Regions from separate parts of the Homo sapiens genome. Here region 1 is linked to region 2. Evidence: fine-mapped expression QTL. A gene starts in region 2. The other region holds a variant in brackets. All regions are shown on one strand. Distances are from middle to middle. Region 1 overlaps LIPC (lipase C, hepatic type). Region 2 holds the start of ALDH1A2 (aldehyde dehydrogenase 1 family member A2).

Region 1 (2,911 bases), 440 kb before region 2:
ATAATGAGTTAGTCTTTTCAAAAACCTTCTGAATGGAAATTAAGCTCAAGCCATGCACTGCCACTCAAAAAGGCAAGCAAGTCAACTGAAGCGATGGCAGTTAAGAGCCCTTTTTATCAATGTCACAACCATGCCCTAGCCCACAGCATTGTAAGATATATTCCACATTCAAAGATATTAAATAGGAACAACAGTGGACCTTACAACTGAAGACATAAAGTATCTGTTTCCCATACCAGGGAGCTGTGTCCTTGTCTATTGTGTCTTCCACCCTATGCCCAGTACCTAGCACCATGTTGGCATTCAGAAGGTACTCAGCAAATACATGTTTAGTAATGGAGAAAACAATACAATTCTGCGCATGTACATTTTATTAACAGTGGAACTGGATAAAGTCTTATGGAATGAAATAGTATATAAATAGCTTCTTCTTTTTCTAAACTCTTTTTTTTTTTAATGATTCAATAGATCCAATGGTACAAAAACCCCTTTCTTATAAAATTTTTTAATTGGTGATACCAGTTATAACAACTAAAATTTTGACTGGTAAATATAATAATAGATATCCATTGACAGCATTCCTATCATATTATGTAATTTTGTATAACACTTGTCTGTTTCTAAATGCAGACATGATATCACTAGTAATAGGGACAGAAGTGATTCTTGGTCACCAAGCAGGGTAAATTTGGGAGTATAGGAAACAATTTCATCCATGTAAATGATGTGGCAAAACACTGCGTATACAGAGAGTCCTGGCTTACTGGGGAGTTGGTAAGCCATAGTATGGCTATTATATGTTAAAAAAAAGAATAAAGATTGTGTTTGGGAAATGAATTTTGCAGGGAAAAATAGAAAATTATATTTATTTACTGAACACCTATTAGGTTAGCACGTGGTCTTTTAATCTTCACAGCAATCCTTGGAGTAGATAGCTTTGCTTCATTTTGCAAATGGGGAACCTGAGACTCAGAGAGAGTAACCTGCCTGTGGCTAGTAGGTAGTTGCTCCAGTATTCCAATTTCAGTCTTCTTGATTCTACAGCAATTGCTTTTCCAACCATTCTATGCTGACTCAGAAAACCTGAGAGTTTCGGAATACCTAATAGGAGTTAATGAACATTTAGGAAGACTGGGGCCAGCCCTGGAGGTGGAGTGGAGAAAGTGGCTCATCATCTGAGGAGGAATCAAGCTGGTGACATTGATGGATTCTATTCTATCTAAACCATTCACAGTGGATTGATGTATTTCCCAGACAACACTGAGGAGAATGTGTGGATTTGGGTACAATAACAAGAGAGGATTCTGGTGATATGTTCCCACAATTGCCTGCATACATATCCTCTTCATTTTGCTTTATTTGGCTCAGTTTTGTTCCTTCATTCCTTTAGCAGTTCTTAAAAGAGCTACTGTATAAGGTTTGCTTTGATACAGGACAAATACATTGGGATGTTGTGAATGAGGGAGCTCTGCCTACAAGTAGTACTCAACAGAGAGGCTGGGTGAGAAGCCTAGGAGAGAAGAAAGGATGCACAGAAGAATACTAAAAAATTAAAAAAAAAAAGTAGCAGGAATGAAGGGTTGAAAAACCCACAGCCCTTTCACCAAGGTCAGGTTGGTTGGTTCTTCCTGCACAGTGCTGGAGAGGGCAGAAGGATGTGAATGCGGAGGAAAAGGTGTC[CAA/A]AAAAAAACTGGGACTAATGAGAACCTTGTTGGGGACTATGTCAGTCGTAAGGACTCTCCCTCAGCCCCCAGCATAGAGTTTGGGGATGAATACATTTTTGTTTCAGAGCAAAGTTGATACATCCAAATGTTCCCATATTAACTAATTTGTTCAGTTCAATACTAATAAAGGGATGGAGGGGGGTCGGCCTATAGGAGAGGAAAAGAACCAGCTAGGAAAGGCGTTTCGTATTTTATCAAAGTATGTGGGTTAATGATCTCCCTACCTCCAAAATGACCACAGCGAGTAAGACTCGCTGAATCCTGTGTTCAGGTCATTTGTCATGAGAGGAACTGGACTGGACTAATATTGCTTTGGGGATGATCGGCTTAATTTGACTATGGGGTGGCAGTTGTTGGGGCTCAGCAACTGTTACCCCAAAATATGGTGCTTTGACATGCTGAAATAAGAAGAGCCTCAGGGTCTCTCTGATCTTCACTCCCTACCCCCCACCCTTGGCCCTACCCCATCTCTCAATTCTTCATCTCTCCCAAAGCTCTGGATGAAGTTGTTCTCTTCATCCCTTATCTGCCTAAAGTCTGGAAATACCAAGGAAGAAAGCAATTACCTCTAGTCTCCTCCCTGAGTTTTCATCAACTGAACCCATATCACAGGAAGAAAGACTGAAGTCTGTCAACACACCTGGACAGTATTTTGTCACAAACCATCGTCTTCTGTTTTGGTGCTCATTCAGTATTTCAAAGAGAATCATTTACCAGCCCTTGTCTGCTCTGAAGTCCCAACAGACTTCGTCCATGGCCATTGTAAGTTCCCCAAGTCCACTCGTCTCCCCCTAAAAATCATTTACCATCCCTCAAATTGCCACATTTCCCCCATCTCCCCTTCCCCTATGAAGAAGGGTTAATGGGTAATTGTTCTCTATGGATCCTCCAGTGCTAGACATGTTAAAATAAATTCGTATGCCTTTTCTTCTACTAATCTGTCTTCTGTGAGTTTTCAGTGAGCTTTCAGAGGGCAAAGGGGAAGCTTTCCCTTAGCCTCTACACAGTGCCTGGTGGAGTATGGAAAAAGGTCGCTAGCCAGCTACCCTTTCTGTATTCCAGAATTGTACAAGCTGAAATTTGTCCTAGAGGCCACTCTCACCTTATTATAAGAGGGACCACTTTAGTGAGCTCTTTTCGTTTTCCAAAGTAAGGCAAGTACTGATTTGTGTGTGGCCGGGGGAATC
Region 2 (2,911 bases):
TGATGCTTAATGTTTTCTTAACGCCCAAGAAATGGGACTCCAGCGGCTCTAAAAATGGCATTTAAGATGAGAATCAGGCCGGGTGCAGTGGCTCATGCCTATAATCCTAGCACTTTGGGAGGCTGAGGTGGTAGGGTCACTTGAGCCCAGTTCAAGATCACAGTGAGCTGTCACGGTGCCACTGCATTCCAGCCTGAGTGAAGGAGTGAGACCCTGTCTCTTCAAACAAAACAAAAAGACGAGAATCACAGTGTTGCTTGGTAGTGTAGAAAAAGCGTTTATCAACACTGTAGGCCCCTGTCAAGCTTACATTTGGAGTGAGGAGTAAGGAAGGGAAGGGACTTATGCAGGTCTTTCCATGCGGCCTTGATTTAGTCCACGGAGTCCAAAGCCCATTCTGAGGCAGGGTCTCTAGGTTCTTGGTTTACACCTGCAGGCCGATCCACAGACTAGAGGGCAGCTTGTTAGACTTTGGAAACACTTAGATTAGGGGGGAGATGGAAACTCAATCCCAAAGGGACAGTAAAATGAGCCTAAGGTCTGGCGGGACGATAGCTCTTAGCGTGTAAGGAACAACAGAAAAACAAAATAGTGTTTCTGTGGGTGTGCTGGGTGAGGAGGGGAAACAGCCGGAAGAGGGGATCCGAGAAGAACTAAAGGAGCCCACGAAGCATGCAGCTCCTCGGAGGAGCCGGGGATGATCACTGCCCATATCCTCCCGCCACAGCGCAAGCCGCCCGGGCGGTCCCGGCCGGCAGAGGGCAGCAACTGGGCGGGCGACGCCTGGCAAGGGCCGCCCCGCGCTGACCCGCTCGCAGGGATCCTCATTCTGAGCCCGAGGCGAGGGGGACTCGCACCCACTGCCACCTCTCCCTGACCCTCTGGCCACCATGCACCTCGGCCCGGCTGAGGGGAGTCGGGGGGTCGGGGGAGAGGGCGTAGCTGCCGAGAGCCTGGCGCCCCTGCCCGGAGGAGGAGAACGGAGGACGCCCTCCCGGGTCTCCGGAAAGGAAGGGGGACGGGGTTCGGTGGGTCCTGGGACGGGGATGGGAGGGAACGTGGGCGAGCTGGGAGCCGCCCTCCGCAGCCTGGACTTTCCTGGCCTTTCTCTACTCCGAAGCAGCACCGGGCCGCTCCGGTCCCCGCCAGCCCCTGCCAGCTCCGCTTCCGGGGGCCACGACCCTCGCTCGACTTCGGCCGCTGTGCGCCTCCCGCCGACTCTGACCCAGGGACCCGGAGACCAAGTCCGGCTGGCCGAGGCCCGCGGGCCGCGGCGCAAGTTCCGCTCCCACCGTCGAGGACTGTGGAGGCGGCGTGGGCTGGTCTCCGCGGCCGGGGGGCGGGAGCGCCGGGCGGACTTGACCGTGGGCGCCAAGCGTCCCGGCCGCGCGGCGCGGGCTTTATGTAAATGGAGGCTGCGCCGGGCGTCCTAGGTAGGATGGACCAGCCCCCCGCGCCTCGGCCCTCACGTCCAATAAGAAGAGCCCCAGCTTGACACCTGCCTATATACAGGCGAGCGCGCCCCCGGGCCGCGGACCGCGCGCACAGCCCGCACTGCCCCACGCCGCGGGCTAGGGACACCCGGCCCGCCACCATGACTTCCAGCAAGATAGAGATGCCCGGCGAGGTGAAGGCCGACCCCGCCGCCCTCATGGCGTCGCTGCACCTCCTGCCGTCGCCCACGCCCAATCTCGAAATTAAGTACACCAAGGTAAGCGGCCGCCCAGCGCCCGTCGTCCACGGAGACTTTCTAGAACCTTCTTCGGTTTCCCCGATCTCTTCAGCGGGTGAGGGCTGCGGGACGGGGCCGGGGTCGTCGGGGCCAGCCTGTCATCCCGGCGCAGCAGAGGGACCCCCTGCCTGTCTTCGGGACTGGGGCGTTTGAAGCCCCGCCGTGGTCTGAGGACGCCTTGGGGACTTAACCCAACCCGAAGCGCAGCGTTGAGGGGCAGCCGTCAACGGCTCCTGCCCCGGACTCTGAGGCTGGTTTCTGTCCGATTCTCCCGGTCCCGACTGCCGCGGGGGAAGGCGTCGGAACCGCTTAGTATCCTCAGATGGAGGCCGGGGTTCCCCGTCAGCTTGGCCACGCAGCCTGGCCGTCGCCTCTCGGTCCTCCGCCTTCCGGGCCCCTCGGCTGTTGGTCCCAATCAGGTCCTCCACAGCCCGGAGGGTGCTGAGGGGCTTTCCCGTAAGGAATTGTCAAGACACCAGCGCTCTGGCCGGTTTGACAAATTTCACGGAAACCTGACTGATAAGTACAGTAACTCCAACGTCAGCGTTTCATGTGAATTTTGTAGGCAGCGGCAGTTTCCCTGGGAAACTTAAAAAGTTTTAATATTTGTTAGCATGTTCGGTTTTGAACTGAAGAACTTACTTTTTTTTTTTTATAACGAACGTTGACATCTTGGGTTTGCTAAGCAGGATTTTTGTTGTTGCATCGCCTAAAAAAGAATATGCGTCTGCTACCTAATATAAAATGAATTTACTTTCCACAAATTCGACATAGAAAAAAAATGATCGATTACAAACGTAGGGGTATTGTAATGTTACAACATTTTGAGGGAGGTGGTGAGAGAGAGATGGGATTGAAAACCACGTTTCTTGGAGTTCATTTTGTAGTTCTCTGGTTTGATTTTCTAGTCCTTTCGGTACATTTCTACACTCAACTTCTCCCAATTAACGCAAACGCATAGACGCACATGCATATGGTTAAAGGTTGATTAAAGATGTATTCCATCGTGCTTTTTTACAAGATAAATTTTGTAGAGAAGTAAATTGTTTGCATCTGGCTTAGTGGTTGAATGAGATATACAAGAAACAACATCAGAATATTGAGATTTTACTTGCATTGAGTTTTAGGTTACAAATCAGGGCGATTTGTGTTTTGAATGTCGATTTAGATGGATTTAAT

Evidence for each region. PIP is the estimated chance that this variant, and not a neighbour inherited with it, causes the effect.
Region 1: its variant is fine-mapped to the expression of ALDH1A2 in whole blood (INTERVAL, PIP 0.91).

What each region holds. Positions count from the first base shown.
Region 1 is chr15:58,507,504-58,510,414 of GRCh38, reverse strand. All of the region lies in intron 1 of LIPC (lipase C, hepatic type), which reads right to left. Among named protein-coding and RNA genes, the nearest start is that of LIPC-AS1, 10 kb to the right of the region's middle. The variant CAA/A (reference allele first, on the strand shown) is at 1,681.
Region 2 is chr15:58,064,334-58,067,244 of GRCh38, reverse strand. ALDH1A2 (aldehyde dehydrogenase 1 family member A2) reads left to right here and starts at 1,534. Exons shown (of 13, transcript NM_003888.4): 1 at 1,534-1,711. The coding sequence starts at 1,595. It overlaps ALDH1A2-AS1 (ALDH1A2 antisense RNA 1), which reads right to left and starts at 2,020. Exons shown (of 3, transcript NR_147215.1): 1 at 1,503-2,020; 2 at 311-430. RefSeq lists a silencer at 679-868 and enhancers at 1,477-1,996, 1,997-2,516.